Linked DNA regions of Homo sapiens. The protein of the gene in region 2 purifies or fractionates together with the protein of the main gene of each other region. This does not show direct contact. Each region holds a gene or a part of one and is shown on either strand. Other genes may lie near its edges. The genes, in order: GPI and GOT2.

Region 1 (16,074 bases), on a different chromosome or scaffold from region 2:
AGTTTTGGTGACATACGCCTGCAATCCCAGCTACTTGGGAGACTGAGGCAGGAGAATCGCTTGAACCCGTGCGGCAGAGGTTGCAGTGAGCTGCGATTGCGCCACTGCACTCCAGCCTGGGCGACAGAGGGAGACTCTGTCAAAAAAAAAAAAAAATTTCCTCATCCCCATTCCCAGCTAACCCTCCAGAAGCAGCCTTTGTAAAGTTTCCTGTAGCCAGGCGCAGCAGCTCATACCTCTATTCCCAACTATTCAGGAGGCTGAGGTGGGAGGATGGCTTGAGCCTGGGAAGTTGAGGCTGCAGTGAGCCATGGTGACACCACTGCACTGCAGCCTGGGCGACAGCAAGATCGTGTCTCTAAATAAATTTAAAAAATAGAAAAGTTTTCCTGTGAAGTCTTCCAGAAAGTTCCTGTGCACATACACATCTGTCATCTCCTCTTTGAAACACGTACACATGTGCACATGCACACAGGTTGGTTTTCTCCCTGCTCCTCTGAAGCTTATTTCCACCTGGAAGTATGTAAGCAGTGTCCGTGTGTCAGTGACAGTGCATGTAACATGCCTTCTTTTCCTTGTGTGTAGGGTGGTAGGGGTTGCCTCAGAGACCAGCTAAGTTTCCCCACATCAAGCACTTGCCTCAGTGTCTACCCTAGCGGTGATTCTGCAGGGGTGGGTTGGCAGACATCCTCACGTCTGGAGAACGAGGGTGATGCCGGTGTGCCTGTGTGGGCTGTGCATGCTACGAGGGTGATCGTCCAAACTCTTGTCAGCTGTGATCATTTGCTGCTTGTCCTAGGAGCAGTGGCCTCCATGTGTGGCTGGTCAGAGTCCAGTTACTTTGGCCAAGAGCCACTTTCAGACCTGAAAATGGGCTGGGTGCAGTGGCTCACGCCTGTAATCCCAGCACTCTGGGAGGCTGAGGCAGGTGGATCATGTGAGGTCGGGAGTTTGAGATCAGCCTGATCAACATGGTGAAACGCCGTCTGTACTAAAAATACAAAAAAATTACCTGGGCGGGCATGGTGGCGAGCACCTGTAATATCAGCTACTGGGGAGGCTGAGGCAGGAGAATCTCTTGAACCCGGGAGGCAGAGGTTGCAGTGAGCCAAGATCACGCTACTGCACTCCAGCCTGGGTGACAGAGTGAGGCTCTGTCTCAAAAAAAAAAAACCAACAAAAAAACCAACCCATCTCTGGAAAAAATAAATAAATCAGCTAGGTGTGGTGGTGTATCCCAGCTACTTGGGAGGCTGGGGTGGGAGGATTGCTTGAGCCCGGGAGGTTGAGTCTGTACTGAGCTGAGATTGTGCCACTGTCCTCCAGCTCAGGTGACAGAGTGAGACGCCTCCAGGGCAAGGAAGTTGTGGGGTCCTGATGGGAATCTGGATTTCCTGAATGTCACTTAGGGTGATCAGTCCATGTGATGGTCTTTGGGTGTGTGGCGGGGCCTTTCCAGCCATCTGCTGTGAGTGGCAGAGCTGAAGTGCATTAAAAGCCTAGTGCTGTGTGATCAGTCTGGGTGTGCTCAGCCATGCCACATGGCGAGGATGGCACTGCACCGTCTGGGGTGCTGTTTCCAGGAAAGCCTTCCCTTAAAGCTGGCCACTGGAGTACCTGACTCAGGCTGATAAGGTATTTATAGTTCAAAAAAAGTTGCTGAATGGCAGTAATCCCCTGGTGAGGAACATTCCCCATGGCTGTGCTCTCCAAAGTTTGCCAAGATTGGGTGAAGACGTTCACTGTGACCTTGATTGTAGTGGCAAAACCTGAAACCAAGCTGTACTCATTTGTCAGGGGACTTACAAAGTAGAGTCAGCACATATTCATATACTGTCATCCTGGGCACCAATAGGGATTAGGGAGCTATAGTTGGATTGATCTGCCATGCTGTTCAGGATGGACTGGGAAGTTGAAAAAGGAAGTTGCAGAATTGGTGGGTATGGTAAAGACTCATTTGGTCAAATGAAGGCTGGGTGTAATTGTAATAAAGATAGACACATTTGGCTTGGTGCAGTGGCTCACACCTGTAATCCCAGCACCTTGGGAGGCCGAGGTGGGTGGATCACGAGGTCAGGAGTTCAAGACAAGCCTGGCCAACATAATGAAACCCCATCTCTACTAAAAAAAAATACAAAAAAGTTAGCCTGGCATGGTGGTGCATGCCTGTAGTCCCAGCTACTCGGGAGGCTGAGGCAGGAGAATCACTTGAACCCCAGAGGTGGAGGTTGCAGTGAGCCAAGATCACGCCACTGCACTCCAGCTTGGGCAACAGAGTGAGACTTTGTCTCAAAAAGAAAAAAAAAAAGACACATTTTTCCTCTGGGATGCTTCATTATAACAAACCTTTGACAGTCGGGAAAGGAGACTTGCTTTTTTTTTTTTGAGACAGAGTCTTACTCTGTTGCCCAGGCTGGAGTGCAATGGCGAGTTCTCGGCTCACTGCAACCTCCGCCTCCCAGGTTCAAGCAATTCTCCTGCCTCAGCCTCCTGAGTAGCTGGGATTACAGGCATCCGCCACCACACCCAGCTAATTTTTGTATTTTTAGTAGAGATGAGGTTTCACCATGTTGGTCAGGCTGGTCTCGAACTCCTGACCTCAGGTGATCCACCCACCTTGGCCTCCCAGAGTCCTGGGATTACAGGCATGAGCCACCACACCCAGCCAAGACTTGCTTTTTCTAACCTCTTTTGTCACACGCCTGTGAGGGAGGGTTGAGAAGTTGAACAACTTATTTTATTTCTTTCTGTATTGATGGAAATTTTCCCATGGCAGTTTATTTAAAGAAAAAGTAGGGCCAGGCACAGTTGCTCACATCTGTAATCCCAGCACTTTGGGAGGCAGAGGCAAGAGGATTGCTTGAGGCCAGGAGTATAATACCAGCCTGGGCAACATAACAAGACCCTGCCTTTAACAAAAATTTAAAAATTAGCCAGCTGTGGTGGTGTGTACCTATAGTCCTGGCTGCTTAGGAGGCTGAGGCGGGAGAATTGCTTGAGCCCAGGAATTTGAAGCTGCAGTGAGCTATGATCATACTCCTACATTCCAGGTCGAGCAACAGAGCGAGACCCTGTCGTTAAAACAAAACTAAAAAATACCCAGCAAGGTGCAGTGGCTCTTGTATAATCCCAGCATTTTGGAAGGGTGAATCGGATCACTGCAGGCCAGGAGTTCAAGACTAGCTTGGGCAACCTAGACCCTGTCTCTTTTTTGTTTGTTTGTTTTTTGAGACAGAGTCTCTCTCTTTCACCCAGGCTGGAGTGCAATGGCCTGATCTCGGTTCACTGCAACCTCCGCCTCCCAGGTTCAAGCGATTCTCCTGCCTCAGCCTCCCGAGTAGCTGGGATTACAGGTACCTGCCACCACACCCAGCTAATTTTTGTGTTTTTAGTAGAGATGGAGTTTCACCATGTTGGCTAGGCTGGTCTCGAACTCCTGACTTCATAATCTGTCCACCTCAGCCTCCCAAAGTGCTGGGATTATAGGCGTGAGCCACCGTGCCCAGCCTATTTTTTTTTTTTAATTAAAAAATAATTTATAGTCTGGGTGCTGTGGCTCACACCTGTAGTCCTAGCACTTTGGGAGGCCGAGGTGGGCGGATCACTTCAGGTCAGGAGTTTGAGACCAGCCTGGCCTACATGGCAAAACCCGTCTCTACTAAAAATACAAACAAAATTAGCCAGGAGTAGTGGCAGGCGCCCATAATTCCAGCTACTCAGGAGACTGAGGCAGCAGTATCATTTGAACCCATGAGGTGGAGGTTACTGAGAGCTGAGATGGCGCCACTGCACTCCAGCCTGGGTGACAGAGCGAGACTCTGTCTCAAAAAAAAAAAAAAAATTTATAACTGGGCATGGTGGTGCATGCCGGTAGTCCCAGTTACTTGGGAGGCTGAGGCAGGAGAATCGCTTGAACCCGGGAGGTGGAGGTTTCAGTAAGCTGAGATAGCACCACTGCATGCCAGCCTGGGTGACAGAGCAAGATTCCATCTCCAAAAAAAAAAAAAAAAAAATTAAAAGAAAATTGCTGGATCTTATTAGTGTATAGTAATTTTTTATTGATGTGTGGGAAATTATTCCAAAATTTAGCAACTAGAAGCAACAATCACCGTCTCTTTATGTGGGGAATTTGCAGTGGCTGTGTTTGGTGTAGTGGCTCTGATATTCTAAGGTTGCAGTCAAGATGTTGGCTAAGGATGTGGTCATTTGAAGGCTTCATGGGGGTTGGAGGGTCTGCTTTGAAGATGGCTCACTAGCAGTGCTGCCTTTGGGAGGCACAGACAGTTCGAGTGTCCTCATGACAAGGCAGCTTATTTCTCCCAGAGTGAGTGATCCAATAGAGAGTAAGGCAGATGCCTGGAGGTCTTTTGTGACCTAATATCAGGATTCACATTCTTTCTTTTTTTTATTTTTATTTTTTTGAGACAGAGTTTCACTCTTGTCACCCAGGCCAGAGTACAATGGCGTGATCTTGGCTCACTGCAACCTCCGGTCCCCGGCTCAAGCGATTCTCCTGCCTTAGCCTCCTGAGTAGCTGGGATTACAGGTGCCCGCCACCATGCCCGCCTTTTTTTTTTTTTTTTTTTTTTTAAATTTTTTTAGTAGAGATGGGGTTTCACCATTTTGGCCAGGCTGGTCTTGAACTCCTGATCTCAAGTGATCCGCCTGCCTTGCCCTCCCAAAATGCTGGGATTACAGGGTGAACCACCACGCCCGGCTACACTCTTTGATTTCTATAATACCCCGTTGGTGTTACAGATCAGCTCTGGTCATCATGGGAAGGGACTGCATCAGTGGGTTAATGCCAGGAGACAAGGACCACTGGTCACCATCTTAGAAGGTGGGGGACTATCATAGTCCCGCTTCTGGCGCCTAGTGATTGATTTTGTTCCTTCCACACACAGATACCCCACTCACTTTCTCCTAAGTCCATATTCTGTTACAGTATTAGAAGTCTGTTAGAAGTCTAGAACCTCATTTTGTCAAGTACAGGTGTAGTAGTACCTGCATTTCCTTTAGTACAGTTCCTTTCAATCTGAAGACATGAGAATTTAAAGAGACAAATTACCCCTCACACACCCAGCATACAATGGTGAGGTGGGCATGGGATGACTGGTATGTATGGGATAATTATTTCTTTTCTTTTCTTTCTTTTTTCTTTTTTTCTTTGTTTTTTTTTTTTTTGAGGTAGGGTCTCACACTGTCGCCCAGGCTGGAGTGCAGTGGTGCAGTCACTGCTCACTGCAGCCTCGAACTCCTGGGCTCAAGCAATTCCCCACCTCAACCTTCTAAGTTGCTGGGACTACAGGCACATGTCACCATGCCTGGCTACTTTTTTATTTTTTGTAGAGATGACGTCTTGCTATGTTGCCCAGGCTAGTTTTAAACTCTTGGCCTCAAGTGATCCTCCTGCCTCAGTTTCCCAGTAAGTGCTGGGATTATAGGCATGAGCCACTGAGTCCGGCCTGCATATTTAGGTTTTTATTATGACCACACTGTACTTCTGATACCAAAATCTGTATTAGTTATCTATCATTGTATAACAAATGACATCAAAACTTGGGTTAAAACAGCAATACACTTTTTTTTTTTTTTTTAAGACGGAGTCTTGCTCTGTCGCCCAGGCTAGAGTGCAATGGCGTGATCTCCACTCACTGCAACCTCTGCCTCCTGGATTTAAGCAATTCTCCTGCCTCAGCCTCCCGAGTAGCTGAGATTACAGGCACACGCCACCATGCCTGGATAATTTTTGTATTTTTTTTTTTTAGCAGAGACGGGGTTTCACCATGTTGACTAGGCTGGTCTCGAACTCCTGACCTTGTGATCTGCCTGCCTTGGTCTCCCAAAGTGCCAGGATTACAGGTGTGAGCCACCATGCCCGGCCTAGCAGTAAACTTTTATTACCTCTCACAGTGTCTGTGGGTCAGAAGTTTGGGAGCGGCTTAGCTGGTTGGTCTTGGTTTGGGGATCTCTCATAAGGCTGTAGTCAACATGTTGGCCAGCGCCCCAGTTATCGGAAGTTTTGATGGGTTTGGAGGACCCCCCTCTAAAGTGTCCCATACACAGGAAGCGAGTTGGCTGTGACTTTTGGAAAAAGGCCTTAGTTCGCTGCCGCGTGGGCTTCTTTATGAAACTGTTTGAATGTCTTCACAACATGATAGACAGCTTCCCCAAAGCGAGTCATCCAAGAGAGCAAAGCAGAAACTGCACGTTCTCTGAACTCACTTCTGAAGTCACATTTCACCCCTTTTTGCAGTCTCTGGATGGGTGCATAGGTCACCCCTCCCAGCACAGGCGGAAGCTATGCAGAGGCATGAATTCCAGGAAGCAAGGATCACTGGTGTCTGATTGGAGACTGGCTGCGGGTCTGATACTCCTTTCCCCAGCATAGCCCAGTCACAGTTTTCAACATTTCACATCTCTTGGTCTCTGGCATAGCAGATTCTGCCGAGTTATCCCTGGTTTTGCAAATTCTGACAGTGTCGCTGTAAGGTAGGGATGTCTCACTGTTGTAACCAGGAAAGAGTCTAGTTGGTGGTGAGTGTGGCAGGGACCAGTGTGGTCTCCAGAGACTCCTATGCCTTGTGTAGTGGCTCACGCCTGTAATCCCAACACTTTGGGAGGTCAAGATGGGAGGATTATTTGAGGCCAGGAGTTAGAGACCAGGCTGGGCAACGTAGCAAGACGCTGTCTCTACAAAAAATAAAATAGGCTTTGCGTGGTGGCTCATGCCTGTAATCCAAGCGCTTTGGGAGGCCGAGGCAGGTGGATCACCTGAGGTCAGGAGTTTGAGACCAGCGTGGCCAACACGGCGAAACCCCATCTCTACTGGAAATACTAAAAATTAGCTGGGCAGGGTGGCAGGTGCCTGTAATCCCAGCTACTTGGGAGGCTGAGGCAGGAGAATTGCTTGAACCCTGGAGCCTGGAGGCGGAGGCTGCAGTGAGCTGAGATCGTGCCGTTGTACTCCAGCCTGGGCGACGGAGTGAGACCCTGTCTCAAAAAAAAAAAAAAAAAGGCTAAAGCAGAGCATTTTGTTCTGTTTTTGGAGTCAGGGTCTTCCTCTGTCACCTAGGCTGGAGGTGCAGTGTTGCGATCTTGGCTTGCTGCAGCCTCAACTTCCTGGACTCAAGCAATCCTCCTGTCTCAGCCTTGAGCCACCCTGCCTGGCCCCTAAGGCACAGTTTTAAAAATAAGTAAATAGCGAGGCGCGGTGGCTCACACCTGTAATTCCAGCACTTTGGGAGGCCGAGCTGGGCAGATCACTTGAGGCCAGTAATTCGAGACCAGCCTGGCCAACATGGCAAAACCTCGTCCCTACTAAAAATACAAAAAAATTAGCTAGGCATGCTGGTGGCGCAGGCTTGTAGTCCCAGCTACTCAGGAGACTGAGGCATGAGAATTGTTAGAACCCAGAAAGTGGAGACTCTGTCTCAAAAAAAAAATTAAAAATAAATAGCTGGGTGCGGTGGCTCAAGCCAGTAATCCCAGCACTTTGGGAGGCTGAGGCGGGCAGATCACAGGGTCAGGAGATCGAGACCATCCTGGCTAACACGGTGAAACCCTGTCTCTACTAAAAATACAAAAAACTAGCTGGGTGTGGTGGCGGGCGCCTGTAGTCCCAGCTACTCAGGAGGCTGAGGCAGGAGAATGACGTGAACCTGGGAGGCAGAGATTGCAGGGAGCCGAGATCATGCCACTGCACTCCAGCCTGGGCAACAGAGCAAGGCTTCATCTCAAAAAAAAAAAAAAAAAAAAAAAAAAAAAAAAAAAATATATATATATATATATATATGGTAAATTAAAAACAAAAAAATAGAGGCACCTGCGAGGGCCTGAAAGCTGGGACTGAGGTACCAGGACACGGCAGTAATGATGTTTTTGAGCAGCGGATTATGCCTGGGGGTTTGGGCTGATGGCATCTTCGCCCCTGTGCCAGCGTGTCCGGAGCGGTGACTGGAAGGGGTACACAGGCAAGACCATCACGGACGTCATCAACATTGGCATTGGCGGCTCCGACCTGGTGAGGAGAAAACTGCCTTGGGGTAGGGTGGGAGTCTGGGCACTGTTGGTCCCACTCAGGTCTTTACTTTCTCCAGGGATGGGACCTGGCTGTCTCCACTTTTCGTGGGCCCTGAATTCTTATTCTCTGATGCTATGTCTCCCCGCAGGGACCCCTCATGGTGACTGAAGCCCTTAAGCCATACTCTTCAGGAGGTCCCCGCGTCTGGTATGTCTCCAACATTGATGGAACTCACATTGCCAAAACCCTGGCCCAGCTGAACCCCGAGTCCTCCCTGTTCATCATTGCCTCCAAGGTATGAGTGCCGAAAACTGCCCGGCCCCTGGCCCTGTGTGTGTTGGGGTGGGGAGGGACAGCTGTCTTGCCATCCCCCTGGCCATTGGTCCCTTTTGGTGGGTTCCGAGTGAACCATGGTTTGTGGATCAGGTCAGTACAGCTGCCCTAGACTGTTTCCATGCCTAGCAGCAAATAAGGTTGACTGATGAAATCCTGAACACATCAGTTTGAACCTTTGTGTCCTGACCACACCCGCTCGCCTTGCGGCATCTCTGCTCAGCCTGGGACTGCTCGCCACTTTCTTACAAACCTGTCCTTTATGCCTGCTCCTTTTCTTGTTGTTGTTTTTGAGACAGAGTCTGGCTCTGTCACCCAGGCTGGAGTGTAGTGGCGTGATCTCGGCTCACTGCAATCTCCGTCTCCCAGGTTTCAAGCGATTCTCCTGCCTCAGCCTCCCAAGTAGCTGGGACTAGGCACACACCACCACGCCTGGCTAATTTTATTATTTATTTATTTATTATTATTATTTTTTAGTAGAGATGGGCTTTTGCCATGTTGGCCATGCTGGTCTTGAACTCCTGACCTCAGGTGATGCACCCCCCCTTGGCCTCCCAAAGTGCTGGGATTACAGTCTTGAGCCGCCATGCCCAGCCATGCTTGCTCCTTTCTGATCCCAGAGCCATGCCCTGATAATAGAGGGGTTTTGTTTGTTTTTATTTATGTTCTATTTACTCACATGAATGTACATAAAATATGAAGAATTCCATCTGAATTCTGAGATACCTTCCAGCCTGGGCCGAAGAGAGCCTCAGGTTGACTGCAGCCCCTCAGGGGAGAAGCTGCGGCCTTTGACCTGCAGGCTTAGGGTTGGGGGGTGTGTTTACCGTCCCCCCTCCTCTGGTTTTAAAGAGCTGGAATCTCAGGAGGTTATGTGGCGTCACTGTCACTGACCTGCAAATACTGCTCCATGGGACAGCTGGGCATTGCCTTGGCCTCTACTGCTGAACCCTGGCTCAAGGCCTGCACCCACCCCTAAGCTCGGGCGCCCACTGCTGTTCTCTTTGGTTGCAGACCTTTACTACCCAGGAGACCATCACGAATGCAGAGACGGCGAAGGAGTGGTTTCTCCAGGCGGCCAAGGATGTGAGTGGGCTATAGGGCCTTCCTCGTGGTTAGCCTCTGGGCTGGGAAGAGCAGGGTGGGCCCCTGAGTGACCAAGTCTGGCCGTGTTTCTCCTGAAGTTGGAAGTGAAGGCGGCCTTGCCGGTGCCTGCCTTTGCTAGATGAGATGATTGTTCATCTTGGCTTTGTCAGACCCAGCCTTGCAGATGTGACAGAACCTGCTCTCGCTGGCTGACAGCCCTTGCATGGCCCTTTCTCTGCAGGCCCTTGGCGCTGCAGGAACTCTTGGCCACACCTATTTTATAGGGGAGGGACGTCCCTGAGCCCCGTATGCTTGTAAGATGGGATGAGCAGGCGGCCTGTGACCCGTCTGCTTTCTTGACCTTGACCTCGATGTGGGCCTTCTCCAACAGTCTCAGAACCAAGGACTGGGAATCTCAGTCCCATGCAGGGCCTTGGTTCCTCTAGTGATGGGAAGTGACTACCCTTTGTCTCCCTGGGCTGGCTGTGGTAACTTGGCTCTGTCTCTTGTAGCCTTCTGCAGTGGCGAAGCACTTTGTTGCCCTGTCTACTAACACAGTAAGTGCCCCCGTGGTCCCCTGTACTGCCTTCCTGGGAGTGCCCAGCATGTCCAGGTCATGGCCTCTCAGAGACGCGGTTCGTAGGTCTGGTGGATCTTGGCTTGGCTGATGGTATGGAAGGTTTGGTTGCCTGTGGGCTGCAAGCCTTCCTTGCCTTTTCCGCATTTACCCATTCAACCTCTGCAGCTTTGAGGAGGGAGGCTTGGAGTCAGTGGGATCACGATAACCCCTTCTTCCGTCTCCCAGGCCTGACTGATACACAGAACCCTTCATACACATGACCTTCCTAGGCCTTTGTGCCCAGCATCTCCCCAAATGTGACATGCTAGGTAGGGGTAGAGGATGCATTCCATTTTTCACTTAAGGACATAAAGCCCCAATGAAGGGAGGTGACATTTTGCCCCCTACTTAGTGTGTGTGGTTTTGTTTTTTTTTTTTTTTTTTTTTTTTTTAAGACAGTCTCACTCTGTTGCCCAGGCTGGAGTGCAGTGGCGTGATCTTGGCTCACTGCAACCTCTGCCTTCCAGGTTCAAGCGATTCTCCTGCCTTAGCCTCCCGAGTAGCTGGGATTACAGGTGCACGCCACCATGCCCAGCTATTTTCGTATTTTTAGTAGAGACGGGGTTTCACCACGTTGGCCAGGCTGGTCTCTGACTCCTGACCTTAAGTGATCTGCCCACCTCAGCCTCCCAAAGTGCTGGGATTACAGGTGTGTGCCACCATGTCCAGCTTATTTTTTGAGACAAGGTCACTCTGTCACTCAGGCTAGAGTGCAGTGGTACGATCTTGGCTCACTGCAACCTCTGCCTTCTGGGTTCAAGTAATTTTTATGCCTCAGCCTGCTGATTCTGGGATTACAGGCGCCCACTACCACGTCCAGGTAATTTTTGTATTTTTGGTAGAGACAGGTTTTCTCCATGGTGGCCAGGCTGGTCTCGAATTCTTGACCTCAAGTGATCTGCCCACCTCGGCCTACCAAAGTGTTGGGATTATAGGCATGAGCCACTGTACCCGGCCCACTTAGTGACTGTATGAGTAGGTGATGCCAGGATTAGAACCTGGGTCTCCTGTCTCCAAGTTCTCACAGTCTGCCTGGCCTCGAGGTTGTGCAGGCTCAGCAGGGCATGACAGAGTGAGGGATGCTCCAGGAGTGACAGCAGCAGTCAGCCAGTGGGCACTGTGCTGTGTCAGAGCTGGGGACTACACCCACATCTCCCTCCCACCCCCTCCACCATCATCCCCACATCTCTGCCTCCAGTGCCTACCCAGCTGCAGCAGGACGCCATAAGGCTGGCTAACCATAGCACTGTTGCCTGCCTGCAACTGACTGGTCAGTAGGGCTTCTCCTCCTATGTGGAATAGGTAAGGAATTGCTGGCCCTGTCTGCCCTGGGGACCAGAATACCTGATGGCTCCTCAGAGCTTCCTGGTGCAGTCACCCTCCCACACATGGGAAGGGCTGGGTGGCTGTTCAGCCTGTGTTTGTTTGCCTGGCCTGGTAGGTGGCCCCTGCCCACACTTGGGTCCCAGTCCTAGGTTCGGTTCCCAGATGTCCAGGGGTATCATGCTCTGGTGTCCCAGGCAGGCCTGGGTGAGAGCTGTTGCAGAGCAGTGTGTGGGCCAGGTCCTCACACGGGGTTACAGCTGCCCTCAGCAGGGGGCTTTGCAGGCACAACGTCACTGGCGTGCTGGTCATGGACTGATCTGGTGTCCAGCTTGGGGTGGGCAGATCCTGGGCCCTGCCCTCGACTCACAGGCTGCTCCAGCCCTGCCCCATCCCTGGCTCTGGGGAAGGTGAGGCTCAGCTCACGGAGCACAGCTCCCTGCCTCCCGGAGCTCCTGTTCCCATCCCGCTAGCAAATGCTTCTTTGCATTTCTCTCCCTTTGTTTTTTTTTTTGTAGACCAAAGTGAAGGAGTTTGGAATTGACCCTCAAAACATGTTCGAGTTCTGGGATGTAAGTACAAGCACTTCTGCACTGGGTGAATTAAGTGTCCTTTGCCAAGTCATGGCTGTTGAGAGGCCCATGAGGTCAGGTCAGTGTTTATTGAGTACCTGCTGCATACCTAGCTTGGGGAAAGGTAGAGAGGCCCTCAGAGAGGCTTGGAGGGCAAGAGCAACCCAGGCAGGATGAGGGCTCCACTTCCACCTGAGGGCGGGCTGAGCTTGCAGGGCCACATGACACTCCCTTGGGTGCCTGCCTGCAACACCCACTGTGGGGTAACCCGAGTCCCCCTTGCCACGCTCACAGAGTTGAGGTTGTGAGTTATTCTCAGTGATGACCTTTCTCTGAACTGCAGCCACCATCTGTAAAGGCCAAGGGCAGGGTGAGGCATGAGGTATGACCGGGTAGGCCTGGAAAGGAGCAACAGGAGCTGCAGGAGGAGCTGGGGGGGTGGCGTAGAGGAGGCGCCAGGCTGGGGCAGCTTGCAGAGCAAACCCTGCCTTGAGTGACAGGGCTGCCGACCCCTCTGTAGCAACAGGTGGTCCATGGGACCACCTCTGCTGGAGCCGAGCAGTGAGCCACAGCTTTCCTTGTGCACTTGCCTGAGCTCAGCAGTGGTGTGAGGAGGGCTCTGACTGTGAAGCCCAGGGTGCAGGGGTGCAGTGCAGGGTGTGATGCAGGCACTGTGAATGCTGTGGGCATGGCCGGGCTTACGTGCAGGGCTCTAACGCTGTGGCAGGCGCAGCAGAGAGGGCATTGCCCATTTGGTGGTTTTCCCACCTGGGGCTGTCTCCAGGCATTTGGACCAGAGGCCCTTTGCTTGGTGATGGCATCCACAGACATAACCTCATTCCTTTGAAAGCTCTAAAGGCCTTTTACTACCAGGGTCTGGGAGAGAATGAAGCCCTAATCCCTTAAGCCATCCACTGTGTATAATGAGTTAACTTCTTTCTAGAATGAGACTAGTTACATACCATCCTTGGAAGAATTGACGAGAATCACTCAAGTCATTTTCTGCATCCTGTGGCTCAGATGCGGAACACTGGTCAAGAGAGACTGTGCGGCTTCTAATAAATGTTGCATGGCTGATAATGGAGGGCAGGCACCTTCCACCTCCTCCTTGGGATCTGGAGCCTGAGCAGGTGGTGGGCAGGGATGTGTGGGTGCTGCTGCCAGCCAAGGAGCCAAGCAGATCGGGGTGTCCTTGCTTGTCACCACCCAGCATGTAGAGATGAGTTAGGGTGTGGCTTAAGGAGAGGATGGGTCTGGCCTCCCAGGTAAGGCCTAGGAATGATAGCTGGACACAGGAACATGGGGCCAGGGCTGGCTGGTGAGACCTAAGTGGAGGCCTCCTGGGCCAGGCTAGACAGCCCACAACGGCTGGAGGAGGGACCTGCCTGAGTTACTAGAGTGTATCCTGCTGAATCAAGAAGGTGATATCTGAAGAACCCAGGGATAGGAGCAGGCGAAGTTCCTGCAGGTGGGGTCTCGGGTGAGCTACAGCCATCAGCTCAGGCCTAGGGATGCAGTGCCGGCCCTCAGGTGAGATCAGAAGAGTCCCGTCTGGTAGGGGTATGTAGAAGAGGTAATTCTTGGTCCGCCAGGGCCAGTTTTGCGGCAGCCATGGGTGTCGGGATCAGGCAGGGGTGTGGTGGGAAACCATGGGGTCTCTCAGGGCTCGGCCAGGGTCAGCGCACGCCACAGGGCCAGTTTTGGCTGGAGAGGCCTGAAGCAGAGCCAGAGCAGGTCCAGGTGAGTTCTGAAGAGGAGCCAGGACAGGAGAGGGACCCATAGGTCTGTGAATTCCAGAGGAGAGGCAGGTATTTAGAGGTGGTTCTGTCAGGTGAAGTCTGAGGAGCCAAAGCTATGTATGTGCATATGTCAGCCGGGCTCTGTGGGAGGTGGTGTAGACCTATGGCATGGGACAGGTGTGCACGCTGGGATCTCTGGCCGGTTCCGAAAAGTGAGGATCAGGTAGTGGGTGGCTGATTGCACAAGTTTAGAACCCAGGATTAGGGACACACAGGTCAGCACCTGCTTCTCAGCATCCTGACTGGGTGTGATGGGCAGAGCTCAGGGCGTCAGAGGCCTCTGAGAATTTGTGACTGAAGTCCAAGTCTGTGGCATCAGGGTCTGCAGAGCCCAGATGCGGGAGAGGTAGGAATGTACCTGGTGATATGAGGCAAGGACAGGGGAGCTGGGGCAGGTGAGGCAGGCAGGTGGCATGAGGAGCTGTGCTGGGTGGGTGCGGTCTGAGTGGCTCAGGTTGGGTAAAGGGCCAGAGACCTGGGTCTACAGGGCAGACATCAAGGCTGAGCCAGTCAGACAGTGTTTGTCAACACTGGGCTCTCACCAGGCTCCCTCAGGCCGAGGTCAGCAGCCAGGGATCTGTCATGTGTGAGGAAAGTGTCTGTTCAGGTTAGGTGTGTATAATGCAGCCTTTCAGAGCCGCGTCTGTCTGAGGTCCTAGGAGCTGGAATCAGACAGGTTTGTATGGCTGGGTTTCTAGGGGAGGCCTGAGGAGCCAAGACTGTACTCAGGTAGGCAGAACTGGACCAGTCTGGTAAGGACGTTGGAGCTAAAGATAGGCAGACAGGTCGAGCTGGGTCTGACAAGTGAGGGCTGAAAATCTGTGATTGGGTCCAGGTTGGAGCTGTGTCCTTGGGCGATGTCTGAGCAGCTCTGGTGGGTGAGCCTGGGTCCCCTGGGAAGAGACCAGACAAAGGGATGGGGTCAGACAAAGGGATGACGAACCGCATCCATCAGAAAGGTGGATGAAGCCTGGGTCTGGTCGAGGTACGTAGAGCAGATCTAGCAGGCGAGGTTTCAGGGGTTAAGGTGAGACACAGGTATGTATTTTTGGGTCTCACAGGTTAAGGTCTGAGCCACTGAGGTCAGGCTCTGGTTTGTATCCCAAGACCGAGAAGCTGTGTTAAGCATGGTGGGTAGAGTTTGTCAGGTGACATCTATGAAACCAGGAGCATGCAAAGATAGGTTGACCGGAACAGCCATGGTCAAACCAATTAAACTGTCCTGCAGTTGAGGTCAGGCACAGGTAGAACGGATCTATCAGGTGAGGCCCAAGGAGTCCGGATTAGGCTCATCTAGAAAGACCTGGATGTGGTAGATGACCTCTGAGGATATGAAGTGAAGGCAGGTGGATAGAGCCAGGTCTCTCAGGAGGTCTGAGGAGCTGGGATCTGGCACAGTGAGCAGGTCTGGATTTCCCAGGTGGTGTCAAGACAGATGGGTAGGCCAGGCACAGTGGCTCACACCTATAATCCCAGCAATTTGGAAGGCCAAGGCAGGCAGATCAGTTGAAGTCAAGAGCTCGAGACCAGCCTGGCCAGCATAGCGAAACCCCGTCTCTACTAAAACTACAAAAATTAGCCAGGCATGGTGGTGCATGCCTACAGTCCTAGCTACTTGGGAGGCTGAGGCACCAGAATTGCTTGAACTGGGGAGGCAGAGTGAGCCAAGATGGTGCTACTGCACTCCAGCCTGGGTGACAGTGAGACTATCTCCAAAAAAAAAAAAAAAAAAAAGCGGGGGTTGGGTGTGGTGGCTCATGCCTGTAATCCCAGCACTTTGGGAGGCCAAGGTGGGTGGATCATCTGAGGTCAGGAGTTCAAGACCAGCCTGGCCAACATGGTGACGGGGTGAAACCCCATTTCTACTAAAAAATACAAAAATTAGCTGGGTGTGGTGGCACACGCCTGTAATCCCAGCTACTCAGGAGGCTGAGGCAGGAGAATTGCTTGAACCCGGGAGGTGGGGTTTGCAGTGAGCCGAGATCATGCCACTGCACTTCAACTTGGGCAACAAGAGTGAAACTTTGTCTCAAACAAAAAACAAAAAAAAAAAAAAAAGAAAAAAGATGGGTGGGTAGAAGTTCTTCTCCTGGGTGAGGTTGAGGAGCTGTGGCCAGGTACAGGTATGTAGGTATGTGGAATTGAGTTTCTTGGGTGAGGTCTTTGGAGCCTGGCCCAGGTACATCTTCGGGTCTATCAGGTCTGAAGAACGGGAGTTAAACACAGGTGTGTAGAACAGGGTTTGGCAGGTAAGGTCTTTGGAGCCAGGATCAGGGCAGCTTCACAAAGCTGAGTGTGTTCATGAGACCTAAAAAGTCA
Region 2 (16,226 bases):
GTATTTTATGTAGAGACGGGGTCTTGCCATGTTGCCCAGCTGGTCTAGAACTCCCGAGCTCAAGCAATCCACCTGCCTCAGCCTCCCAAAGTGCTAGAATTACAGGTGTGAGCTACTGTGCCTGGTCTGTGATCTTTTAACCAATGGTTATGGTACCACAGTTGCACACTGCATTTTTAAAGTCTCACGAGACCTGCTCAGTTATTTCACCAAAAAGTAAATAATCAGAATTAAATAATTAAAAGCAAATCATTATAAATCAAAATACATTAGCATCTTTTTTTTTCTTCATTGAACTGCAACTATGTCTGATCTCATGTCACTATACATTTACAGTACAAGTCAACAAGAGAAAGTTTTATTCGCAGTGTTTAGCTAAATGATACACTTGAACTTACAAAGAGTTCCACATATTTACAAAGAGTTCCAAGTATGCCATTGGATAAATCCTCAGTTCTTCAGAATAACAACAGACAAGGTTTTATTGTATTAGAATGAGCCATTTAAATAGAAATGTCGATGAATTCAGTTTAAGTATTTTCCACTTTTACCATTTGGAGCTAGGTAAAGATCACTTCCACAGTGTAAGGAGGGAAGTCTGATCTTGCCTGAAGAGTTAACCTTCATGCCAAATATGGCATCTGATTCTGTCACCTAATCAGGTATCATTATTTAAATCTGAAGAGTAATTCCTCAACATTAGGTGCTCAACTATTTCAAGAATTTATTTTCTGGTCAGGTGGGGTTGCTTAGCCTATAATCCCAGCGCTTTGCGGGGCTGATGTGGGAGGAGTCTGAGACCAACACAGGGAGACTCTGTCTCTACAAAAAATAAAAAATTAGCTGGGTGTGGTGGTGTATGCCTGCAGTCCCAGCTACTTGGGAGGCTGAAGCAGGAGGACCACTTGAGCCTGGAAGGTCAGGCTGCAGTGAGCCATGATTGTGCCACTGCACTCCAGCCTGGGCAACACAGTGAGACCCTGTATTTAAAGAAAAAAAAAAAGGGAATTTTTTTTGGTACATATTTTGCAGCACTGTGGTTCCCCTGTGTAAGATTAGTCGAGAGAAGGAACAATAAAATCTGTAACTGGTTATGATCAATTAGTTGTAAACACCATTACACTTGGACCAGCCTATGTTCAGATTTTGATCTAAGATACAACATTAAAATGTCATACTGTATTTGTTTCCGTTGCATTACGTGAAAAATCAGGGCTTAAAATAAAAATATCCAATATAAGAGACATGCCAGCAACTGTTAATAGTGCTGAGATGTAACAGTGAATATAAAGTAGGTAAAGTCTCCGCTCTCATGGAACTTACATTCTAGTAAGAAAAATACAGAAAAGAAAAATGAGTCAGACTCTCAAACTGAAAGAATGACTAACCCTGACCCCAAGGGATTTTCACCAAGCACTAGAGCTTCAGGTGATCTAGCCAAATCCATAAAACAAGGTATTATTTTAAGATTACTGCAATAGGGAAACATACTTTCTCTTGACGGAAATTTTAAGCACTCCTTTGGTTTTCCAAATTTGTTGCATAAATAACTCCTCCTGGCTCTGGCCCACTAGGTAGGCAGACTTAAAGAGCACACGTTGACAGTGGGCCAGGAAGGAGCCAAGTCAGGAAGAGAAAAAAGTGCGAAGCCTGGGCAAAACTGTACTGCCAAGGCTGTGGGGCCTTGGAAAGGACAGATAGTTCTGCTGGCTGAAAGACACAGAGCATACATTCAAACGAAAGGCCAAGCTACGCTTTGCTCCTTGCAGTTAATACCTGCTTGGGGGTGGTTTTAAAACTCAGTTCCTTATTAAGGTAGTGCTTAAGGAGAGTGCTCCAAATCGGCTTCTTGAGTTGAATTAATCTTCTGGCTCCGGTCTCCACTGGGAATGAATTACTAGAGCTCGTTTCAAGCTCTGAAATTTCCCTCCATACTATTATACACGCCACAGTACGAAATTACGTTTGTCATTTTTTGAGCAATGACCATTTGTCATTGTCCTTCCCTCGCCTTGTTCACAGTTGTATCGTTGGCATCTGGTCCAGAGCCTGGCTCTGAGAAACTGCAGTTACGAAATATTTACTGAATGAAAGAGCACAGGGAGATGGAGAGGAAGATTGATAGCCTCCCTGCAACCGGACCTCCTTAGGGGCAATAAGGAAAAAACAAAACAAAACAAAAAAAGAGACACACTACACCTCGACCCTTTCCCAAGCAAAGGCCAAACGGGCCCCGGGGTCACAGGGACCTCGGGGGGTCGCAAGGTCAGGAGAATGCCGCACGCCAAGGTCGCAGGTGCGGGAAGGAAAGCGAGGCCCGAATGCCGGCGCCCCGGAAACCTTCCTCTCGCGCTCTTCCCGCCCAGGGCACACACGCGGCAGCCAGCCGCCGCCGGCCCACCGACTCGGGCGGGCCGGGGGCCAGGACAGGTGCGCCCGCCGCCCCCAGGGCACCCTATCAAGGGCACGGTCGTTACCCGGCGCCGCTGCCCCAGTACTATCCGCACCCCTCCCACTGAATGGGAGTCCGGCAACCGCCGAGGGCCACACTTCCTTTCCCTAGGGATTGCGTTGCACGCCTTCCTGCAGGGCCCAGTGCGGGGACCAGAGGGATGTGGGATCCTGAGGATCACTGTGGGGCACGGACGCTCAATCCTCAGTCCCCAGTAAGGGAAAGCCGAGGGGGTGGCAGAAAAGTGTGTGTGTGTGCGTGTGAGTGACAGTGTGTATTTGGGGGCCGGGAGGGGTGAATGTCCTGGGGTGCTCGCAGCTCGGCGGGGCAGGGCCATCGCCCTGGCTCCATCTCCGTTTCCCTTGGCTTACCTGGCTCTGGCAGAGGCCGCGGCGGCGAGGCCCGGGTGGAAGGCGGCGGCGATCCCGGGGAGGACGCGGCCGGAGTGCAGCAGGGCCATGGTGGACCGTAGGAGGGCAGTGGGCAGCCGCAGGACGGAGCAGAGGGCGAGCGGACACACACACAGGGAACCGGCTCCTGCTGAAGGTAAGGACAGGGACTTCCCTGGGCCAGAGCGGCCGCGTGCTGGGCCCGAGCCACGTCACAGCGATCCCTGGCGGCCGGCGGGCGGAGCGGCGTGGGCTCAGCGGAGGTCGTGGAAGAGGATGACTGCACAGTTTACCTACGCCCAGCCCTTGCTGCGCTTCATTCATTTAATCCAGCTGGGCCAGGCCTGGCCGGCCGAAGAGGTGGCTGCTGTTATGGCAGTTTGAAAGATGAGAAAATGTAGGCTGACATAGTTGACGTATTTTGTCTGATGCCTTACAGCCATTAGGACCCAAGGTGGCCTTACTTTCAACCCTAATAGTTTCCCTAAGCACAAGTCATGTCACGTCGTTCCTGAATGTTTCCTTATCCCCCACCCTTTTTTTTTTTTTTTTTTTTTTGAGATGGAGTTTCACTCTGTCACCCAGGCTGGAGTGCAGTGGCGTGATTTCGGCTCACTACAACCTCTGCCTCCCAGGTTCAAGCGATTCTCCTGCCTCAGCTCCCCGAGTAGCTGGGTTACAGGTGCCACCACCACGCCCGGCTAATTTTTGTATTTTTAGTAGAGACGGGGGTTTCACCATGTTGACCAGTCTGGTCTCAAACTCCTGATCTCAAGTGATCTGCCCGTCTCAGTCTCCCAAGACTGCTAGGATTACAGGCATGAGCCACCGCACCTGGCTTCCTTATCCCTTTTATGGAGAGGGTCGCATGTGTATTTTGTGGGGCAGTTGTGAGGATTAATAAGATTAGCAGATTATGTCTAAAACAGGGCCTGATTTAGTAAGCACAAAATAACCCATGGTCATTAATGACAAACTCGTGTATGTCAAATCCTGATAACTGTTTGTGGAAGGAAATGAATCGGTTTTGAAGGAAATGAATCGGTTTTAAAGGAAAAAGCAAATGAATTTCAGACACATCCACAAGTCAAACGAGTCTTTCTCATGTGTAGTCTATTTCTCTGATACTCGTCTCTTAAACCAAGGTAGGGGCCCGGTGTGTTGGCTTATGCCTGTAAACCCAACACTTTGGTAGACTGAGGCAGGAGGATAGCATGAAAACAAGAGTCTGAGACCAGCCTGGGTAACAAGATGAAACCCCCATCTCTTAAAAAAATAAAAAAAAATTAGCAGGATGTGGTGTTGCGTGCCTGTTCCAGCTACTCAGAAGGCTGAGGAGGGAGGATTGCTTGAGCCCATTAATTCAAGAGTGCAGGCCGGGCGCGGTGGCTCACGCCTGTAATCCCAGCACTTTGGGAGGCCGAGGCAGGCGGATCACGAGGTCAGGAGATCGAGTCCATCCTGGCTAACCCTCTCTCTACTAAAAAAATACAAAAAAAAAGTAGCCGGGCATAGTGGCGGGCGCCTGTAGTCCCAGCTACTCGGGAGGCTGAGGCAGGAGAATGGCATGAACCCGGGAGGCGGAGCTTGCAGTGAGCCAAGATCGCGCCACTGCACTCCAGCCTGGGCAACAGAGCCAGACTCCGACTCAAAAAAAAAAAAAAAAAAAGAGTGCAGTGAGCCAGGATTGCGCTACTGCACTCCAGCCTGGGTAACAGAGTGAGACGCTGGCTCTAAATAAATAAATAAATACATACATAAATAAAATAAAACCGAGATAGAACTGTGTACCTTGGCAATTTAATATCTCCTCTGTGGCTCCACGTTGCCTGAATGGTAAAGTCTAAACCCCTACTTAGGGCCACATTCTAGGTCCTTCCGGCCCAGCTCCAATTTACTGTCTCAGACCCTTATGCTCTCATATGACCTTGACCTATGCGCCTATAGGCCATGACTTGGGATTCTACCTGTGAAAAGTAAAGTAGAGATTCTTCTTTAAAGACTTTCCTCCCTGTCTAATTAGAAATAAATAGTAACTTCTCTTAAAAACAAAATGTATTCAAAGACCTGTACTAACAGTCTTAAATATCTGCTAGCCATAATAAAGAAATCAATGTACTTTATGTTCCTAGCTGCCACCATTTAGCCTAAATATTTGCCCTGGCATGCTTATACTGGTCCAAGCAAGCATTAGGTCATAGCCTGTTCCTCTTCCTTATTTGAAGGTGTTTTTACCTTTCTCAGCATTCCACAAGTTACTTCCTCCTTCCTTTGCTCTCCTCTGCCTTTGCCTCTTTTAAAAAGTTCTAAGTTGCTAGCCAATCAGAACAAATACAAAATGTGAGGACCTGTTCCAGCCAATGAAAACCGGACACAGCAGCAAGGTGGATGTATCAGGTTATAAGTGACCTTGTCTCCTTTGTTTGGTGTACTCTCATGGCAAAACTGCTGTCGAGTGTACCCTTTCTGCCGAAAGTATAAAGATGGCCTTGCTGAGGAAATTAAATTTATGTTCAAGTGCTATTTCTTTACAGCACCAAGAAACAAGAATTTCAAACATACCAGTACATCAGTTTGCTCAGACTGCTGTAACAAATCCCCATGAATTGGGTGGTTTAAAACAACAGAAATTTATTCACTCACAATTCTGGAGGCCCAAAATCAAAAATCAAGGTATTGGCAGGGTTTGTGCCTTATGGGGTCTCAGAGACTCTGTTCCATGCTTCTCCTAGCTTCTGGCAATTGTCTGCACTCCTGGGCATTCGTATGCTGTTAGAGGCATCACTAATCTCTGCCTCTGGTGTCACACAGTGTTCTCTCCCTGTCTGTCTCTTCTCTTCTTTTAAGGACACCAATCATATTGGGGTAGGGTGCATCTTAATTGCCTCATCTTCGCCTGATTACATCTGTAAAGACCCTATTTTCAAATAGATCACATTAATGGGTTCCCCAGGTTAGAACTTAAACGTATCTTTTTTGGGGGCACATTTCAACACATAACAACTACTATTCCCAAAACAATTACATGTCCAGGTATAAACCCTAGAGATCTTCTCACACATTTTTAAGGCTGTCAGTAAAGCATTGTTTATAAAAGCAAAACAGGGAACAACCTAGTCGCCCATCGATGGAGGAAGAGATGGATGTTCTGCTACAGTCTCATGATGGAGCATTACAGAACTACTAACGTGAATGAACTCAATAGATGTCACCATGGATAGACCTCAAAAACATAAACATGCTATAGAATTATACATATAATATGGTGCCACTTAGACAATATTTTTAAAATACACAAAACCATAACATACATTTATTCATAAATGTATGTAAAAGTTTGAAAAAATATGCCAAGGATATGGTTCAATACAGGATTAGGAGGGCATGAGCGTATTTGCCCTTGTGGAGGGAAGGAGACAACTTTGTCATATTAGCTTCATAAAAATTATAGATAAGAGGCAGGCACGGTGGCTCGCGCCTGTAATCCCAGCACTTTGGAGGCCAAAGCGGGCGGATCACCTGAGGTCAAGAATTAGAGACCAGCCTGGCCAACATGGTGAAACCCCGTCTCTACTAAAAATACAAAAATTAGCCAGATGTGGTGGCGCGTGCCTATAGTCCCAGCTACCCAGGAGGCTGAGGTAGGAGAATCGCTTAAACCTGGGAGGCAGAGGTTGCAGTGAGCCTAGATTGTGCCACTGCACTCCAGCCTGGGCACAGAGCAAGACTCTGACTCCAAAAAAAAAAAAAAAAAAGAAAAAAAGAAAAAATACAGATCAGATTAACAATTGTCACCATTTTGGGGTTGAGTATTTGTCACATTGGATTCTGTACTTTTCTGTATGTGTGTATATGTGTGTGTGTGCATATAGTTTTTTGTGTGTGTATATATATACACATATACATATATATACACACATATACATACATATACACATATACATATATATATATACACACATATACATATGTATATATGCTAATTTGAGTTCCTGATATGAAAGGTGGATTGGAAGGAACAACCCTACAGTGGGGAGACTAGGTAGAAGGAAGGTTTACACAGGAATCCAGGCAAGAAATTCTGATTGCCTGAGTTCAGGTAGAGGTAACAGTGATGTAGAAAAGGTTACAGATCTGGGGCATATCAAGGAGGTAGAATCAGATGGATTTGGTGATTAGATGCAGAGAAAGGTAGAAAAGGAGTCAGAAATAATTCCCAATGCTTTAGTTAAAATTGGGGTTGTCTGCAGTTAACAGAGACCCCGAATAATTGACTTAACATATATATCTTTCTCACATAAAAATCTGGAGATAGGCAGTCCAGGGTTGGGGTGGCATTTCTGACCCAGAGTCCTTAGGAAGTCAAGTCCTTCCAGATCCTCGCCCCGCCCTCCCTAAAGTATGGTTGACTCCCAGTGGTCCAAGATAGTAGCCATAGCTTCATCCATCACATCTCCATTCAAAGCAGCTGGAGTGCAAAGGACGTACACCAGTTAACTTTTAAAAGAGTTAAAATATGGGCCAGGTGCAATGGCTCATGCCTGTAATCCCAGCACTTTGGGAGGCTGAAGCAGGAAAATTGCTTGAGTCCAGGACCGGTCTAGACCAGTCTAGGCAACATAGTGAGACCCTGTCTCTACAAAAAAAAATGCAAGAATTAGCCAGGTGTGGTGGTGTGCGCCTGTAGTTGCAGCTACTTGGGAGGCTGAGGTGGGAGGATTGCTTGAGCCTGGGAGGCAGAGGTTGCAGTGAGCCGAGATTGTGCAACTGCACTCTAGCTTGGGCAACAGAGTGAGACGCTGTCAGGGGGCGAGGGGTGGGGGGGAAGTTAAAATAGGAGGAGGCAGAGTGTGGCAAAGATCAGATGGAGGAGAGAGTGAGCCAGGGGAGCACAGAGGAGGAAAGGCTCAATGTCAGCTGTGGAAATCAGGGAGGCCTTCATGGGGGAGGTGACATTTGATCTGAACTTTAAAGGACTGAGGTAATGTGGTATGTGGAGGAGGAAGGAAGGAAAAGACATGGCCTATGCCCCTCCTGATTATCTTCCTTGTCCTGGCTGTCTACCTCCCCAGTCTCCCTCCACCCCCCTTTTCTGTGGACCTGCCCCTTCTGGCCATTGCCCTGGGCTTTTTCACCCACGCACCTCATATTTCCAACCCTACTATTAATTACTTGGATTCATGAATACTGCATTTCAGGTTTTGGTCCTGAGCCACGGGTCCTTTAAGCTGTCCACCTGCTCTGACAGTCTCAGGAGCAAATGACAGCACTCCTTCCCCCTCAGGGTCAACCACCATGTCTCCATTTCTCTGTATTTTACAATATGGAGTAAATGCTCATTTGAAAAAATCATCAGGTTTTTGATTTTTGAGTAAGACTCCATCTCAAAAAAAATCATAAACTTTGTTAAAACATTATGAGTTTTTTTGTGATTTTTTTTTCCTCTAGCTCTTCAGCTGTCATCATTGTTAGTGTATTTTATGTGTGACCCAAAACAGTTCTTCTAGTGTGGCCCAGGAAGCCAAAAGATTGAATACTCCTGTCTTACACTGTCACCTCGGGACATCTATAAAGCTTAGATGTTGCAAAACAATGAACTTTGTCCTCAAGAAACACAGCTAATTTACTAAAAATGCACATGTAGACCTATGATTTTAATTTAAAACCATCTTCTAGATATTTACCGAAGAGCCCTTCCCTCCACCCTTTCTCTTCTCCTTCCACCATTCCAGGGACTAAGTACAGGACTATGTCTAGCTCCAAGAGGTCTAGGGACAAAGGTCTCTCCCAGAAGACAGGTGTTTGTAAAAACGAACAAGAGTACATTTATAAAGGGATTATTTTACTTCCTCTACTTTAACATACTTTGAGCATTATAACTTATTTTATTATTTAATGCACGCAATAATAACTAAAATGTGCATATAGAACAATGGTTAGGCCATCTGAAGTAGTCTAACTCATGGGCATAGAACCCTTCTCTCTGCAAACTTCCTCCTCCCCATCACCCACCACCACCCAATGAGCAGTCAGCATACCCTCCAAGACATCAACTTTAACAATTCTGTCCCCAAAATGCAACCACTCCTATAATGTTTAAAAAAAAAAAAAGAAGGGTATTACTTTAGCCCTTTTAACATATTTTTGTGCATTTTTAAACATCTAGGAAGATGAGCTGTTTCAAACAGGACTTAAGTTTTTCACTATACACGCAGTACCATTGAGTAAACGGTGCACATACATAACAAAGGCTATAATTTCAATATGTTTTCTAACTAGGAACATTCTGGCCTAGAATCCTTCCCCTTCCTACCTCTATCAACCCAGGGGACAAGTATAAGCATCTGCAATGCTTAGGAGGGATTTTTTAATTTTAATTTTTATTTATTTATTTTTTTAAGACAGAGTCTCGTTCTGTCGCCCAGGTTGGAGTGCAGTAGTGCAATCTCGGCTCATTGAAACCTCCGCCTCCCAGGTTCAGGCGATTCTCCTGCCTCCGCCTCCTGAGTAGCTGGGATTACAGGCACATGCCACCATGCCTGGCTAATTTTTTTTTTTTTGTGTATTTTTAGTAGAGATGGGTTTTCACCATGTTGGTCAGGCTGGTCTCGAACTCCTGACCTCGTGATCCGCTCACCTTGGCCTCCCAAAGTGCTGGGATTACAGGCATGAGCCACTCCGCCCAGGCTGGGATTTTTTTTTTTTTTCTTTTTTGAGACAGAGCCTCGCTCTATCGCCCAGGCTGGAGTGCAATGGTGCAATCTTGGCTCACTGCAAACTTTGCCTTCCAGGTTCAAGCCATTCTCCCGCCTCAGCCTCTGGAGCAGCTGAGATTACAGGCACCCACCACTATTCCCAGCTAATTTTTGTATTTTTAGTAGAGATGGGGCTTTGTCATGTTGGCCAGGCTGATCTCAAACTCCTGACCTCAGGTGATCCACCTGCCTGGGCCTCGTAAAGTGCTGGGATTACAGGTGTGAGCCACCATGCCTGACCTTACAAGGGATTTTAAAAATTTCACTTCCATAAGTGTTTTTTAAGAACAGTCTTTCCTATGAATTTTAATGTAAAGTGTACTCAGTGTATTAGTTTACTAAGTTCACTTTTGTCATATGCTGGCAAGCTCTGTAACATCTTGGAAGACTAGATGTTGTAAAGCAGGACTCATTTGACCCTTATATACACTAGATACACAGCAAAGTAAAATTAAACGCACAGACGTAAGGGACAACGGTCAAATGTTGTTCACCATAAACACTCTTGTATAAAGCCCTTTGAACTTTCTTCTCCTCCTTCCTCCCTGAACTAGCACAAATATAATAATGTGTACTGCTCAGAGAAATCAATTTCTAAATTGACCAATTTCTAAAAGACAACATTTCATATGAATTTTAACAAAAGGATATCTATAAAATGTGCTATTTACTACCTCTACTTTTAACATACTTGGTCCACTTCTAAATATCTAGAAAGAGTAGATGTTTCAAATAAGGACTTAGGCTGGGTGCAGTGGCTCATGTCTGTAATCCCAGCACTTTGGGAGGCCGAGGTGGGCGGATCATGAGGCCAGGAGTTCAAGACCAGCCTGATCAACATAGTGAAACCCCATCTCTACTAAAAATACAAAAATGAGCCAGTAGTGGTGGCATGCGCCTGTAGTCCCAGCTACTCGGGAGGCTGAGGCAGGAGAATCGCTTGAACCCGGGAGGTGGAGGTTGCAGTGAGCCAAGACTGCGCCACTGCACTCCAGCCTGGGTGACAGAGTAAGACTCCGTCTCAAAAAATAAATAAATAAATAAAAAATAAAAAATAAAAAAATAAGGACTTAAGTTTTCCACTATATACACAGTAATATTAAATAAATGGCACATGTAGCAATGGTTATATCTGAAAGTATCTTCTAAATAGGAACATTCTGGTTTCTTTTCTTCTTTTCTTTTTACTTTTTCACTTCCTTGTCAGTGCCAAGGAACATTCTGGTTTGAATCCTTCATTTCTTCCAACTCCTCTCCACCAACAATCTGGTGGATATAGGGACATGTGTCACTTAGAAGAGATGTTATCATTTCACTTCCAAAAGTCCTTTTCAGAAGACAGCTTTTCATGAATTTTAACACAAACTGTACAAAATGTGTTATTTACTAATATTTAGAGACTAGACATTATAAAATTAGGACTCATTTGTCCAGTATATACACAATACATACAGTACAGAAAAGTTAAGTGAAATGCATGTAACATATAGGGCAATGGATAGACTGAAATTTTCTATTTATTTATTTATTTGAGATGGAGTTTTGCTTGTGTCGCCCAGGCTGGAGTGCAATGGCAGGATCTCAGCTCACTGCAATCTCTGCCTCCTGGGTTCAAGTGATTTTCCTGCCTCAGCCTCCCAAGTAGTTGGGATTACAGGTGCCTCCCACCTCACTCGGCTGATTTTTGTATTTTTGGTAGAGATGGAGTTTTGCCATGTTGGCCAGGCTGGTGTCGAACTCCTGACCTCAGGTGATCTGCCCGCCTCAGCCTCCCAAAGCGCTAGGATTACAGGCATGAGCCACTGCACCCATCCAATAAGCTGAAATTTTCTAGTACACAGTAACAAAACACATTTTGCAATTTCTTCCCTCTTATCTCCCTCAACCCAATGAACAACTACAGAGATTATACTGTTCTCAGAGGTGTTTCATATTAGAACTTGTCCACTGTGTACATGGCACTGTTAAAACTGCACACATGTGGGCCGGGCGTGGTGGCTCACGCCTGTAATCCCAGAACTTTGGGAGGCCAAGGTGGGCAGATCACCTGAGGTCAGGAGTTCGAGACCAGCCTGACCAACATGGAGAAACCCTGTCTCTACTAAAAATGCAAAAATTAGCCAGCCATGGTGGCGGGCACCTGCAATCCCAGCTACTCGGGAGGCTGAGGTAGGAGAATCGCTTGAACCCAGGAGGCAGAGGTTGCAGTGAGCCGAGACTGCACCATTGCACTCCAGCCTGGGCAACAGAGCGAGACTCCGTCTCAAAAAAAAAAAAAAAAATTGCATACATGTAACAATTGTTATAGGTTGGTGCAAAAGCAATTGAGGTTTTTGCATATAATTTGAGGTATCTTCTAAGTATGAGAACATCGTGGGCTTGAACCATATGCTCCTCACTTCCTTCTCTCTGTCATCAATCCAGTGGACTAGTACAGGCATGTGTAATGCTTACAGAGGTTGCACAAACTCATATCCAAAAGTCATTTACAGAGGACAGTGTTTCCTATGAATTTCAATACAAACTGTACAAAATGAGCTAATTTTACTAAGACTTGGTCATACGCTGGCAGCCTTTTTAACATCTAGAGACTAGGTGTTGGAAAATTAGGACTCATTTGTCCATTACATACACTAGATACACAGCAAAACAAAATAAACAAAATGCGCAGAAAAACAGTGTCTGAAAATTTCCAAGTGTGAATGCACTAGCATATTACCTTTTGCAATTCCTTCCCTCCCACCTCCTGCAAACCATTGAAAAGTATAGATGGTACTATCCTGCTCATAGAGGTGGTTTAACAATTTTATTTCCAAAAGATAATATTTCTTATGAATTTCAGCAAAAAGATATTTACAAATTGATATTTTACTACCTCTATATTGAACATGTGTTGGGTACTTGTAAACATCTACATAGACTAGATGTTTCAGGTAAGGATATTTGTCCTCCATAGACACAGCAGTACTGAATAAACCTCACACATGAAACAATAGTTGCAGTTTTTTTTCTTTTCTTTTCTTTCATTTTTTTTTTTCCCCTGACACAGAGTCTGGCTCTGTGATCCTGGCTGGATCTCAGCTGACTGCAACTTCTGCCTCCTGGGTTCAAGCAACTCTTGTGCCTCAGCCTCCCAAGTAGCTGGGATTACAGGCATGCGCCACCATGCCTGGCTAATTTTTATATTTTCAGTAGAGAGGGGGTTTCACCATGTTGGCCAGTCTTGTCTCAAACTCCTGACCTCAGGTGATCCACCCACCTTGGCCTCCCAAAAAGCTGGGATTACAGGCATGAGCCACTGTGCCTAGCCTGCTTTTTTTTTTCTTTATTTCTTATTAGAAAATAGGGGACGCTTCATGAATTTGCATGTCATCCTCACACTGGGGCCATGCTAATCTTCTCTGTATCATTCCAACTTTAGCGTATATGCTGCCAAAGTGAGCACAATAGTTATCATTTAACAGTGTCTTCAAAATATGAACATTCTGGCCTAAAACTGTTCCCTTCTACACCAACGCAGTGGGCTATAATGCTCAAATTTTCAGATGACAATCTTTCCTAGGAATTTTAAAACAAAATGTACAAAATATATTAATTTAACTAACTCTACTTTTGCTTTTGTCATACACTGGCAACCTCTCTAACATCTAGAAAGAGTAGCTGTTGTAAATTAGGACTCGTTTATCTTTTATGTACACGATATATACAGATAAGTAAAACAAAATGCACAGACAGAAGGGCTAGTGGTTAATCTTGCTTCATTATAAGCACAGTGGTGCAGAGTTCATCGCACTTTGAGAGGCTATAGTGAGCTTCCTTCTTCCCCTGAACCGGTGCACAAACACGACGTGTACTAGGCAAAAACATTTCACATGAATTTTAACAAAAAGACACCTGTAACCCCAGCACTTTGGCAGGCCTAGGCCTGCGGATTGTTTGAGGTCAGGAGCTCAAGACCAGCCTGGCCAACATGGTGAAACCCCATCTCTTCTAAAAATACAAAAATTAGCCGGTTGTGGTGGTTCATGCCTGTAATCCCAGCTACTTGGGAGGCTGAGGAAGGAGAATGGCTTGAACCTGGGAGGTGGAGGTTGCAGTGAGCCGGGATCGCGCCACTGCACTCCAGCCTGGGCAGAACGAGACTCTGTCTCAAAAAAAAAAGTTTTACAAAATGTGATGTTTTACTACCTCTACTTTTAACATATATCAGGCACTTCGGAACGTCTAGAAAGACTAGTTATTTCAAAAAAGTACTTTGCACTGTCAACTATATATAAAGTAGTGAAGAATAAAATGCACGCACGAAACAATGATTATGACATGAAAACATCTTCTCCATATGACCTGCCTGGCATAGAACCTTCTCTTCCTTCTCACAGACTTCTGTTTCACGTCCTCTAACCCCCTGTACAAACGTGGACGTGTGTCACTCTTGGTGCTTCTACATTTCAAAAAGTCATTTCCAGTGGGGGTGGCGGGGTTGGGGTGGGGTAGCTCATGCTTGTAATCCCAGCCCTTAGGGAGGCTGAGATGGGAGGATTGCTTGAGGCCACGAGTTCTAGGCAAGCCTGGGAAACATAGCAAGACCCTATCTCTACAAAAAAAATAAAAAATAAAAAATAAAAAAATTAACTGGTTATAGTGGCATGTGCATGTAATCCCAGCTACTCAGGAGGCTGAGGTGAGAGGATTGCTTGAGCCCAGGAATTTGAGGCTACAGTGAACTATGTTCGCATCACTGCATTCCAGCTTAAGTGACAGCAAAATCCTGTCTCAAAAAAAAAAAAAAAAAAAAAGAAAGAAAAAAGTCATTTTCAGGAGACATATCTCTATGATTTTTTAAAAAAACAAATGGATGTTTACAAGATGTGTGATTTTCTAACTCTGTCATAATTGGCAACCTCTTTACATCTAGAAGGACTAGATGTAGCAAATGTTTTGTTTTGTTTTGTTTTGTTTTTGAGATGGAGTTTCGCTTGTAGGCCAGGCTGGAGTGCAATGGTGCAATCTCGGCTCACTGCAACCTTCCTGGGTTCAAGCAATTCCCATACCTCAGCCTCTCAAGTAGCTGGGATTACAGGTGCCCGCCACCACACCCAGCTAATTTTTGTATTTTTAGTAGAGACGGGGTTTCACCATGTTGGCCAGGCTGGTCTCAAACTTTTGACCTCAGGTGATTTACCCGCCTCGGCCTCCCAAAGTGCTGGGATTACAGGCGTGAGCCACCGTGCCTGGCTGCAAATGTTTCCTTTTTTCTTTTTCTTTGTGTTTTTGAGACAGGGTCTCGCTCTGCTGTGTTGCCCAGGCTCTAGTGCAGTGGCACACTCATAGCTCACTGCAGCCTCTGCCTCTCAGGCTCAAGTGTCCTCCCACCTCAGCCTCCTGAGTAGCTGGTACCACAGGTGTGTATCACCACACTTGGCTAATTTTTAAATTTTTTGCAGAGAAGGGAGTCTCACTATGTTGTCTAGGCTGGTTGTGAACGTGCCTAGGCTGATCGCTGAAGCGATCTTCCCGCCTTGACCTCCCAAAGTGCTGGGATTATAGGCATGAGCCACCAGCCCAGCCAAATTTTTTCTTTTAAAAAGTTGGGGGGCAAATCGAGATTAGCTTTTTCATATTATATACACAGGCCTTCTGTGTATTATACACACAGCCAGTAAATCTTTCCAAAGGGTGGTAGGCATTTCCAGTTGGCCAAATGTGGTCTCTTTTTCTACTATTTCTCTCTACCTATATTAAGGTCTGGTAGATTTGTCTGATGGCTGCTGACTCATCCATCTGTTGTTGTCCTGGGCTCCCTCATCTCCTGGCTGGTTCAGGCCTAGGGAGGTCTTGTCCAATTGGGACAGACCGGGCAACCCAGGATCCAGATCTGCACGGCCCCGTGGCCTACAGAGGTGACCAAGCCTGTGTCAGTAGACCTGCCTTTTCGCCTGGCCACACCCATGCCACTCAAGGGCACTGTGTCCTAGCAGCTTGCAGGGGCTTTGCCTGGGCCTGGCAGGACTGGGCCAGGAGACCTCGTGGCTGGTATGGTCCAGGCTGGGAGAGGCTGTTACTGCCATCAAGTCACCCAGGTGGGGAGGGGAGAGAGGTTCCCTGCTGCCTGGGCCCGGCCGGAGGGCAGCCACGGCGAGAGCTCTGGGCATCTGCAGCGCAGAGGCAGCAGCCTGTCCTGGGGACCCCCAGTTCATCTGCCAACCTGGAAGAGCTGGCCTCGTTCCGCTTCTCACCTGGCTTTCTGCTGGAACGTAAAATCAGTTTTTTTTGTTTTGTTTCGTTTTTTTGGAGATGGGGTCTTGCTTTGTCACTTAAGCTGATCTTGAACTCCTGGGTGACTGTGCCCAGCCAGAATCATTTTTAACAAAACAATGTGCAAGTCCTTGGATTAGGCAGTCTGAGTGACCTTTGGGTTCAGGCGTTCATGGCGCCAAGTTCCATCACTTAGAACTTACTAGACACCATGCTCTGTTCTGCTGCATCCAGAGCTTCTCTGGGCCTCTCCCATTTGTTTCCTGCTGGCTCCCAGACAGACCCAGAGGAAACATTTCCAGAATGACCTCAGAAATGATTGCGGGGATCCTTTTCACCCAGGGATCCAGGTAGATATATATACACGTATATATA

What was found.
Region 1: the proteins of GOT2 (region 2) and GPI fractionate together in Homo sapiens (co-fractionation; 2 studies listed by BioGRID). This does not show direct contact.

What each region holds. Positions count from the first base shown.
Region 1 is NC_000019.10:34,369,564-34,385,637, forward strand, and holds part of GPI (glucose-6-phosphate isomerase), read left to right. Parts: intron 1-7,939; coding exon 7,940-8,023; intron 8,024-8,171; coding exon 8,172-8,318; intron 8,319-9,370; coding exon 9,371-9,442; intron 9,443-9,954; coding exon 9,955-9,999; intron 10,000-11,902; coding exon 11,903-11,956; intron 11,957-16,074. UniProt on the Homo sapiens protein: In the cytoplasm, catalyzes the conversion of glucose-6-phosphate to fructose-6-phosphate, the second step in glycolysis, and the reverse reaction during gluconeogenesis.
Region 2 is NC_000016.10:58,731,317-58,747,542, forward strand, and holds the start of GOT2 (aspartate aminotransferase, mitochondrial isoform 1 precursor), read right to left. Parts: upstream 3,001-16,226; 5' UTR 2,913-3,000; coding exon 2,824-2,912; intron 1-2,823. UniProt on the Homo sapiens protein: Catalyzes the irreversible transamination of the L-tryptophan metabolite L-kynurenine to form kynurenic acid (KA). As a member of the malate-aspartate shuttle, it has a key role in the intracellular NAD(H) redox balance.